Linked DNA regions of Homo sapiens: region 2 is linked to region 1. The links come from fine-mapping of genetic effects on gene expression. A gene starts in region 1. The other region holds a variant in brackets. All regions are shown on one strand. Distances are from middle to middle.

Region 1 (5,372 bases):
TTACAGGCACACACCATCACACCTGGCTAATTTTTGTATTTTTAGGAGAGATGGGGTTTCACCAAGTTGGCCAGGCTGGTCTTGAACTCCTGACCTCAAGTGATCCACCCACCTCGGCCTCCCAAAATGCTGGGATTACATGCGTGAGCCACTGCACTCTGCCTAACATTTTAAATTAAAAATTAACATTTTAGGCTAGGCGTGGTGGCTCACTGTAATCCCAGCACTTTAGGAATCTGAGGTGGGAGGACTGCTTGAGGCCAGGAGTTCAAGATCAGCCTGGGCAACAAATGAGACAGTGTCTCTACAAAAAAATATAAAAATTATCTGGGCATGGTGGCACGTGCCTCTAGGCCCAGCTACTTGGGAGGCTAAGGTGGAAGGTTCGCTTGAGCCCAGAAGTTCCAGGTTGTAGTGAGCTATGACTGTACCATTATACTACAGCCTGGGTGACAGACCAAGACCTTGTCTCTAAAACAATAACAAAAACAAAATTAACATTTTATACAATGAAAACATTAAAATCACAATTAAAATCCAAGAGAAAACCCTTCATTCAATTTCCTAATTAAATAAATTCATTTTCATTTGTCCATGTTACTATCTAGTCTTTATCCATACACTTATTATTTACATTTTTGTAGTAATAGTACAGGTAATTTTTTTTTTTTTTTTAAAGATGGAGTCTCACTCTGTCGCCCAGGCTGGAGTGCAGTGTCATGATCTCCGCTCACTGCAATCTCTGCCTCCCGGATTCAAGCGATTCTCCTGCCTGTCTCCCGAGTAGCTGGGATTACTGGCGCCCGTTACCACGCCCGGCTAATTTTTACGTTTTTAGCAGAGACGGGGTTTCACCACGTTGGCCAGGCTGGTCTCAAACTACTGACCTCAAGTGATCCGCCCGCCTTGACCTCCCAAAGTGCTGGGATTACAGGCGTGAGCCACTGTGCCTGGCCTATAGTTAAGATTTTTATATTCATTTTTAGTGAATGTTATACCGTATACCGTAAGTACTCTCCCCCCACAATCCTTCTGCCTCTCATCTTCCCTTTTCCATTTTCCTAATACCTCCTACTGCCTCCTCTCAACTACCCTTGTGTGTTTCTTCATCTTTCTCCGTGCTTATTCAAAAATATCCTGCCACACACACACACACAGGCTTCTCTTTTTGTTATTCAGACATTTAAAAAAATTAATTCTTGATCATTCAACTTGATTATTTAGACATTTCTGTACAGCCATCTTTTCTCGTTTACCACCACATCATGGCTGTCTGCCCCTCTACATCCGCACACGGAGCTCTAACGCATGCTTGTTAAACAGCCTTCGTAATAGTCTTTAAAGATCAACCACACTGTTCCCACGTAACCCTACCTCCCAGGTAGGGTTCCCCCAGTAACACTTTCACACATAACTTATTTACTGTTCCTTTTACTTCTGGAAGATTCCGAGAGGAAAGATTGCTGGGTCAAAGGTCACACGCGTTTTCAATTTTAATAGCTATTCCTGGATTACCTCCTCAAAGGGCTCTAACAACTCGCATTGCTCTCAGCGTGTGAGAGGGTCCTTTGCTCTGAAGGGTCTTCTAAAATATTTGTTCAATCGTTACTTAGCAGGGGCTGGGAGTAACGGATTTTATTTTATTTTATTTTATTTTTTGAGACGGAGTCTCGCTCTGTCGCCCAGGCTGGAGTGCAGTCGCGCAATCTCGGCTCACGGATTTGCTCTTTTAAAGGACATACCCTTTTATGTTTAAATGAAGGAACTCATTGATGCACCGAGGCGAAAGGAACCTTTAATTAAGTGCGTCTTCTATGCGGAGTGATCGCTTTTGTCACTTGTTCGAGGGGTGAGAGCTCCCGTCAGTTGTCCCTGTTTCTGTGAGCCGTCTACGAAGCCCGGGCTTGGCCTGGGCGACGCTGAGCGGCTTTAACCGGCGGCGTCCAGCCGGCTCCGCCAGCGCTGCCGCCGCCCTCGAGGCTCCCTCTGACTGAAGGCGCGCTGAGCATCGCGGCATTAGGGGCTCCTGGTCCCTCAAACATCCAGGGAAGCCATTTTCAGGGACTAGGTACTGACCCCCGCGAGCCGCCACAGCCACAGCCCGCGCTCCGGGCCGAACGCCCGAGCTCAAGAGCTCCCGAGCTTCCGTCGGGCGGCGGCCTCACAGCTGGGGGCCCTGAGGCGGAAGGCGCAGCCGCTCAGCTGCGGACCGGGGGCGTGGCGAGGGCGCACAGGTTCTGTTTTTCGCCGGCCCGGGGCCGCTTTCGGTTTCGTTTCCCGCCGGCGTCTCCACCCTGCGAGAGCCGCCCGCCAGCCAGCGTCCGCCGCCGTCCGCGTCGCGCCACCCGCGGTCCGACGGGAGCAGGCCCAGCGGCCATGGCCCAGGCCGGCGTCGTCGGTGAGGTCACCCAGGTGCTGTGCGCGGCCGGGGGCGCCCTGGAGTTGCCCGAGCTGCGGCGCCGCTTGCGGATGGGCTTGAGCGCCGACGCGCTGGAGCGGCTGCTGCGGCAGCGTGGGCGCTTCGTGGTGGCGGTGCGGGCGGGCGGCGCAGCCGCGGCCCCGGAGCGCGTGGTGCTGGCCGCCTCGCCGCTGCGCCTGTGTCGCGCGCACCAGGGCTCCAAGCCGGGCTGCGTGGGGCTCTGCGCGCAGCTCCACCTCTGCAGGTTCATGGTCTACGGCGCCTGCAAGTTCCTGAGAGCCGGGTAAGGCGCCGCGCCGGGAGCGACGGCGGGCGGAGGTCCTGCGCGCCCTCACGCACTTCCAGCCCGCTTGGGGGTCCTACTTGAAGTTTGAGCAGACAATTCGGTGGCTCTGCCCTGACCTCGCACCGTCATTCACTAAAGCGAGCGTTTAATGAGCACCTGCGGAGTACCTGGCACAGTGCGAGGGACTCAGGGTCGAGTGGGGTCCTCTAGACGCCTGGGGGGAGAGAGTGATTTACATAGAGCATGGTAGTGCCGGGTGGAACACCCGGGTGTGGCCGTGTGGGGTGGGGAGGGAGGGAGGCGGCGGCTTAGGGGAACTCCACGACGCCGCGGGTCGCCCCTTGCCAGCTTTGAGGCCAGACAATGAAGGTTTTCTCTGCCCAGCAGCTGGTAGAGATCTTTAAACCCAGTTCAACCCTATTAATCTGCTTACAAACTGGAAAATGCAGACTCCCTGCCATCGCCCACAAGGTCCTGGGGCACTGGTCCCTGCCCACCCAGGACCCTTCTGTGACTGGAACACCCCCCCCCCCCCGGGCATTTCTGGGAGCCTGGGCATTTCTGGGAGTCTTTGCTCTGCCTGGAATGCCCTTCTTGCTCTTGGTTGGCCCTATTTGTTAATCCTTCAGGCCTCAACCTAAAGATCACATCCCATTTGAGGATTTTTCCTCCCCTTACTCTTGGTCACAGGGAACTGTTTATTTTCCTCATGGCACCCAGCTGCCAGTAGAATAGAAACTCCCTGAGGGCAGAGGCTCCAGCTGTCTCCCCAGCACTTAGCGTCCATGTTCTGTGCATAGCATGTGGCCAGTGGGATGTGTGGAAGGGATTGCTGAGGTTTATGCTAAAGAATTTGGGCCTCACCCTGGAGGTGATGGGGCGGGTAAAATGGCAGGAGAGAGCAACCATCAGGTTTGCGTTTTAGGAAGTCTAAGGTAGTGGTGTGGGTGCCAATTTAAGGGAGGATGTTGTGGGGGAACCACTGGGAAGCTAGTCATCAAGGAGAATTCCTTCCTCCCCTGCTCCCTCCTTTCTTGCTTGCTCCCTGTTTTGTGTGTGTGTGTGTATGTTTGTCTTAATAGAGTAGATATTTCTTGCTCATGTCAGGCCCAGTAGTGAGCATGGGGTGGGGGCCTTGATCCATACAGTCATTCAGGGATGCAGGCTGACTGACCTCCGCTCTGTGCCCCTCAGCACATGGCTCTTGAGGCCAGCCTAGGTTATCAAGTTCGAGGGGGCTGATCGAAAAGAGGGATGCATGGGAGGTTTTTGTGGGCCAGGTCTAGAAGTGGTGGATTTCCTTTCACCCACATCCCATTGACCAGAAGCTGTCTCGTGACCCTGTCTAGATGCAGGGTGACTGGGAAATGCCTCTAGGAAGCAGCTGTCTGGAAGTATCTAGATTAGAGCTTTCCAAGGGCTATGTGTGTGAGAAATTTGGGATAGCTGGTGACGGTGTGATGAGAGGATATGTGAGAGGTGACGACTCTTCAGTCTCTGTTCCTGCGGTGGCCTGGGTGTTGTTCACTGAGAGAGCAAGAGAGGGTTTTAGTTTGGAAGCATGCCCAGGAGGCAGCTGTTCAGGTCAGAAGCTTGGGAGGAAGGCCAGGGCCCCAATGCGCTGGGCTGGTTTGGGAGATATTGGGCGGTGTATGTTGTAGTTGCAGCCCCAGGAGTGGATCAGATCTGAGGTAGCGTCTGAGGCCTGAAAAGAGGCTGAGGGTGGAACTCTGGGGAAATCAGCCTTCAGGGATGAGGCAGTCCAGGGGAGAGCAGGGAACAACAGCCCACGAGGAGGAAGGCACACAGCAAATGGTGGCTGGATAGAGCCACTCATGGGGGTAACTGGTAGATCTGTTTCATGTTCATATTTGGTAAAATAAAGATGGCAGCCCTGTTCTTAAGCTAGTTCCCAAAATGTGGGGTCAGGTCTGACTTGTCTCGGAAATCTGTAGTGTGATATTTACTGGCTCAGATGACCTTGAGTTTTCTTCTTTCTTCAGTTTTCTCTTTTCCTTGTGGTTTACACAGGTGAGTTTCTTGAACCTTCCATTTCTGACTCACTTTAGGGAGAGTGGGTGTGGTTGGCTGCACTTTTCTGCTTCCCCTGTGACTCTGCTTGTCTTCCTGAACCGCAGGGTCAGTTCTTTTAGAAATAGCTCATCAGTCCTGCTGCAGAGCTGGTACGGAGTCCTGGGTGCCTGACTCTTAGTCCTCTACTCAGGAGGCATTGAGCCTGGTGGTCTAGGGCACAGTCCCAAGATCCAGCCCACCTTGTTTCAACCTGGGCTCTGCTCCTTGCTAGCTGATGGCTTCGGGCAAGTGACTTTACCTCCAGGTCTCAGTTCCCTCATCTGCAAAGTGGAGTTAATGATATTACTACCCTCACAGGCTGGTTGAGGACTGAATGATTAACTCATAAAACATTTTGGCAATCCCCGATATTTGGCAGTTGCTCAATAAATTTTAGTAGTCATTATCATTGTTACCATCAGTCATCGTTACACTTATTAGATATATTTGGCTCTGGCAGCACCAAATTATTTGCCCCTCTTCTGGAATGTTCTTCCTTTCTCTTGCTGTCTCCTCCTCACCCTTTAAGTATTCCACTCAGGCTTTATGCCATCCAGCATGCTCCCCTGATTTCTTCCCCAGTTCTCTCCCAGC
Region 2 (5,372 bases), 44 kb after region 1:
AGACTGGTCTTGAACTCCTGACCTCAGGCAATCCACCTGCCTCAGCCTCCCAAAGTGCTGGGATTACAGGTGTGAGCCACCGTGCCCGGCCGATACAGTGTTCTTTAAAAGAAAAAGTATATCATTTTTCAGACTCTCATTTTTCTGTCGATTGAAACTTGACTGTAAAGTTGGTACTACCCTACCTAGGAAAATCAAAGCATAATAAAGCTTTGGAACCACTGCTGAGGTTGAACTTTCGATAAATGTCATTCTCTACAACTCCACAATGCACGAGAAGCTGAAAGAGCCACGAGCTAGTGCCATCAGGACAGGCTTACCTGGGGGTCCTCATGTGCCCTGCACCATGGATTCCTTTCAGCACAAGCCTGGGACTTCCTTTAAAACCCCACATTCTCAGTTGTTTTGTCAAAACTACATTTTCACTTATTTATCAGCAATTCTTCATTTAGAGAGAGCACTGGTTCAAACCCCATTGGCAATGTCAAAACCAAGTGCAACAAACGTTTATTAAGCATTTAGGAAATGTTATGTAAAGAACCTCTTATCCTTGCATGCCAGGCACTCTTTCAATCACTTCAGTGACATTTTTCCAAAATTCTGAACATCCACACTTAGGGTTTTCTTTGAATTTGGGGGTGCCCTCCCCCCACCCGGCAGCCTTCTGTGTCAGCGGGATACGATCTTGATATAGACACCATTTTTTGGACCTAGGGCAGATTTGGATTCTAGCTGCAGCGGTACCTAAAATAGAGAAAATTAAAATATTTGTCAAAGAGATAGTAGCATCTCACTGTACAAATGAAGACTTGGAGGTTCAAGAAGGCCAAGTCCGTTGTCCAAGGTCACACAAGAAGAAAGCAGAGAGCAAAGCCCCAAACCTATCTTTCAGTGACTCCAGCCGTCCCTGCTGATCCTCCCCATCTCACTCTCCAGTTCTGGCCAGTAACTGAGCAATGCCCTCTGGCCCAGGGGCTCTGGGGAAAGCAGCTTCATGCTGTTCCTGCTCATGTGTGCTGTGGTCTGGCCTCACTGACATCCAGAAAGCTTTCCTATGTCCAGCTTAAAAGGCAGAGCCAGTGGTGGACTGGGGACTTTGAAGAAAAACCAAAGAATTACTCGAGGAGTTGGGTTTCCTCTGGAGCTGAGTAAAATGATGAGCCAGTGGCTAATGTGACAGCAAAGAGTCACCAGGGTCTTAGTGCTTGGGGCTGTACGTGTCTCCTGTGGGAGCCATAGCCCTCAAAGGCATCTGAAAAAGCTGCAGGCCCCAGCACTTGTCTGAGCAGACAAGGAAGAACGGGGAGCCCTTGACTCCTGGCTGGTTCTTAAGCCGGGGAGTGCCAGGCATAAGCAGCGTTTTGGGAGACTGGTCTGGCTGCTGCACTGTATGTTGAGATCGTGGGGAAGTGAGACAAGCCCCGCACACGTGGAAGCCCCGATGCAGTGGGGCTGCTCCTCCGTCTGCCCCTTGACCTCACTTGGTTTGGCTCTGCTCTGCCGATCTGCCCCTCCCTGTCTCCAGCCCAGAGTATGTGGATGCGTTCACTTTCAGTATCTCAGACTCTATGTCCCCCATCCAAGCTCATTATTCCTCCAGGACCAGCAGCTGGTCCCAGGTTCTCTGTCAGAGGCACTGCCTGTCTCAATCTAGAATTGTTGCTATCTGTCAACTGTGTCCTTATGCCTTCCTATGCCTGCCTGTCCAGGTCTGCAGCTGAACAGTGGGTTCCGGGTGGCAGGACAAGCATGAGGATAGGTGCAGGGGACAGCAGTGGTCAGGATAGGCAGGGAATAGCTAACGCTGTGCAGAGACGTAGCCAGATGTCAGGAAGGAGGGAGAGCTTGGGAGTGGGCAGGATCTGGGTGAGGACCCCCGTTTCTCTCATCTCTGGCTGCTTATCCATTTGCTCATTAATGTTTGTTGAATGAATGAGTGAGCACCTGTCATGCGCCTGGCATTAAGCTAGATGCTGGAAAGTCCAACAATGAATATGACAGACTGGGTCCCTGCCATCACGAAGCCTGCAGTCCTGCTGTGTGGCCTTAGGCAAGTTATTTAACCTCTCTGAGCTTTGATTCCTCATCTAAAGAATGGGAATAGTCACTCCTACTCTGCAGGGTTGCTGTGAGTGTGAAAGCAGGGGATATAAGCTCCCTGACCTGTTGAGGAATTGGTCTGCTGGTTCTGGAGTGTGTGATGTGGGGGGGAGATAGGGCTGGAAAAGTGGGTGAGGCCCCATTTCAGGAGAGCTCAGCTCTCTGGGTGAGGACAGGGTCTGTGCACCAGTCTAGGACCTCAGGAATGAAGGCATATGTTGTTGGGAAGAGGCTGTGTCACCACCTGTGAGAGGGACCAGGCTGTGGCCATGGGGACACGTGAGTGTCTGCACAAGGGGGGAAGGCAAAGCTGGGGGTACC[G/C]TTCAAGGAGCTGAAACCCTTCAGCTTCCCCTCCAAGCAGACAGCACCTTGCTCTGTCAGGAGGAGCCAGAGGAAGTGTCCCCACCTTCTGTAGGACAAGCCATGCACCCCCCACCCCGCAAAGGCAGGCACATGTCACAACTGCAAATGCCATTGTCTGTGTGCCCTTTGTGGAAGTGGGAAGAGCTACAGCAAGGTGAGGTCCAGCCCTGGTGTGCAGAGAACAATACTAATAACAATGGTTAACACGTGCTCGGGTTGGCTTGCCAGGGCTTACCTGAGCGCTGTGTGAACTCACTGGATCCTCACAGGATGTTGAGAGGTAGAGGGTGTTATTATTATCACCCCCACTTTACGAATCAAGAAACTGAGGCCGAGAGAGGTTAAGGAGCTTGCCCAAGCTCACGGAGGCAGAGCCTGATGTTGCCCCCAGGCTGGCCTGCTCTCACGCAGAGAACTGGGGTGGCCCTCCCACCCCTGCCCCTGCCCCTGCCTCTGAGCAGGGGGGCCTCACCTGGGTCTCAGGGCAGGCTTGGAACCGGAACTTGTGCAGCACGTGGAGCAGTGTCAACTTGACCTCAAGCAGCCCTAGACGCACCCCGAGGCAGCTCCGTGGGCCGGCCCCGAAGGGCAGGTACGTGAAGGGCCGGTGCTGCTGCCGGGCCTCAGCCGTGAACCTGCAGGTCCGTGTGGTCAGGGCTGGCCCAGAACACCCGCTCCCTCCCCTCTGCAGCCCTGTGCTCCAGCTGAGCCACCCCTGCATCTGAGACAAGGATGTCTCCAAGGCTCTGGGAGCTGATGGCTGCTCATTCCTGAGCCTCAGTCCCTCTCTGCTCCTGGCCTCCTGTCTTCCTGCACAGCCCCAGAGGCAGAGCTGAATTCGCAGAATCACCTGGAATGTCCACAGCTCCCTCCCTGCCTCTCCTTAGGAATTCAGTGTGTGGCTAATAAGCCCACAGACTCACCGCCACCCACAATCAGAGTCTAAACACGGCATCCCTGAACCCCAGGGTTTGGTGATCACCCTCACCTGGGCCCATGGCGCCACCTCCCCTCCCATAGGATGACCCAGCCGCCACCTGCTTCCTTGGCAGGGTACCGGGCACCTCAGCACCTCCTGGGCCCTCCCTGGGGGGCGTGTCCTGCTGGCTTGCCCTGCAGGTCTCTTGGGCCACACTGGCAGCCCCTCTCCTGCCCGTGTTTGCTTTGCAGGCCCCTGCACTGGACACTTGAACCACTGGAAGCTGCAGTACCTGGAGAGCTGGAGGCCCTTCCTCAGAACTGCTGAATCTCCTACCAAGTAGTGCATTTGCCTGCAGCGTGTGTCCCATGACAGTGAAGCTAGGTGGCACTCACTGTTCTGTAACAGCGAGCTCACTTTTTACTACCCCTGGGCTTTATTGTGAGGCTGTAAGCCCTGTGGCTGCGGCACGTTCAGGAGCTGCTGACTGTGGAATATTGTTGTGTAGATCCCATTGCTCACGTTTTCCCAGTGACTGGGTCGTAGGCTTGGGCTGAACTCAGTTGGAGCCATGAAAGGTGAAAACACAACTGGTGCCGGGCCAGCCCTTCCCTTGCCAGATCACACACACAGGATATTGACTGGTTCTGATGAGGACCAGAGTGTGGGCCGCCTGCTCAGATGTTTCCAATCACAGAGCCCAGAAATGAAAGGAGACAATGAACCAAAGCCAGGTGGTGGAAGGCGGGGACCCAGGTCAACCAGTGGATCACGTGAATTTAGATTCATGGAGACATCAGCTGAAGCTGTTGTTTTGGCATAGATGCCCGTTTTTTAAAAAGGAAATGATGTTCCGTTACTTTCCAGTGCAGACCTGAAATACAATCCTGTATCCCATGTCCTGGCTTGAATGAATGGAAGACAATCATTTGAAATTGCCTTGTTCCTTGCATGCAGGGCTGCTGAAATGCTAAATCTCTGGATTCAGTTTGGACCTTGAAAAAATGGTATAATTATTTATTTATTTATTTATTTTTATTTAATTTATTTATTTTTTTTTAGACAGAGTCTTGCTCTGTCACCCAGGCTGGAGTGTAGTGGCACCATCTCGGCTCACTGCAAGCTCCGCCTCCTGGGTTCACGCCATTCTCCTGCCTCAGCCTCCCAAGTAGCTGGGACTACAGGCGCCCGCCACCACGCCCAGCTAAGTTTTTGTATTTTTAGTAGAGATGGGGTTTCACCGTGTTAGCCAGGATGGTCTCGATCTCCTGACCTCGTGATCTGCCCACCTTGGCCTCCCAAAGTGCTGGGATTACAGGCATGAGCCACCACGCGTGGCTAAAAAATGGTATAATTATTTCCTTTGGAAATTATGTCTTGCAAACATCTATCTGAATTGCCATAACTTTTGACTATTTGGGGACAATTTTGCTAAGTCTGTGCCTCCCGGCTGCTGCCTCCACTGGTAAATTTCTATCCCACACACTCACATCCCTTCAGAGCTTTTTAAAAGGGGCAGTACTCACCTTTCAGGGTTGAAGGTCTCCGGGCTTGGCCAGTGCTCAGGGTCATGGTGCAGGGCACCCACGGCCATCTCTAGCACAGCGCCTGCGGGGATGCGCTGCCCCAGCACCTCGCAGTCCTGAGCTGCCTCCCGTGTGAATCTGAGGGAAACACCAGGTCGGGGGTGGATACAGAGAAGAGATGAGGAGCAGAGCTTGGGGCGTGCTGGGCAGGCAGAGTCTGAGTGTGAAGGGGATCAGGGGCAGGCAGCATGGTGTGTGGAATGAGGCTGGGGACAGAGGACCCCCTGCTCAGCCCCCTTCCCAGGGTGACCAAGCCCCTACCCCATTACCACTCACTGCCCAGGAGCCTGCAGCCCCGAGGCTAGGCTCACTTGGTCCTTGATGAAAATGTACTCATCCATCCCTTCATGCATCCATTTGTCAAGCACAAAGGGCCCCTCTTGTGCCCCATGTCGGGGTGCAAA

What was found. PIP is the estimated chance that this variant, and not a neighbour inherited with it, causes the effect.
Region 2: its variant is the best candidate, but not a certain one, in a credible set for the expression of PARP12 in sun-exposed skin (GTEx, PIP 0.76).

Annotation. Positions count from the first base shown.
Region 1 is chr7:140,059,852-140,065,223 of GRCh38, reverse strand. PARP12 (poly(ADP-ribose) polymerase family member 12) reads left to right here and starts at 2,273. Exons shown (of 12, transcript NM_022750.4): 1 at 2,273-2,702. The coding sequence starts at 2,377. RefSeq lists an enhancer at 2,126-2,335 and a silencer at 2,346-2,665.
Region 2 is chr7:140,015,397-140,020,768 of GRCh38, reverse strand. It overlaps TBXAS1 (thromboxane A synthase 1), which reads right to left. Exons shown (of 13, transcript NM_001061.7): 11 at 4,909-5,046; 12 at 2,936-3,098; 13 at 476-744. The coding sequence ends at 670. Among named protein-coding and RNA genes, the nearest start is that of PARP12, 45 kb to the left of the region's middle. RefSeq lists an enhancer at 3,531-4,031. The variant G/C (reference allele first, on the strand shown) is at 2,422.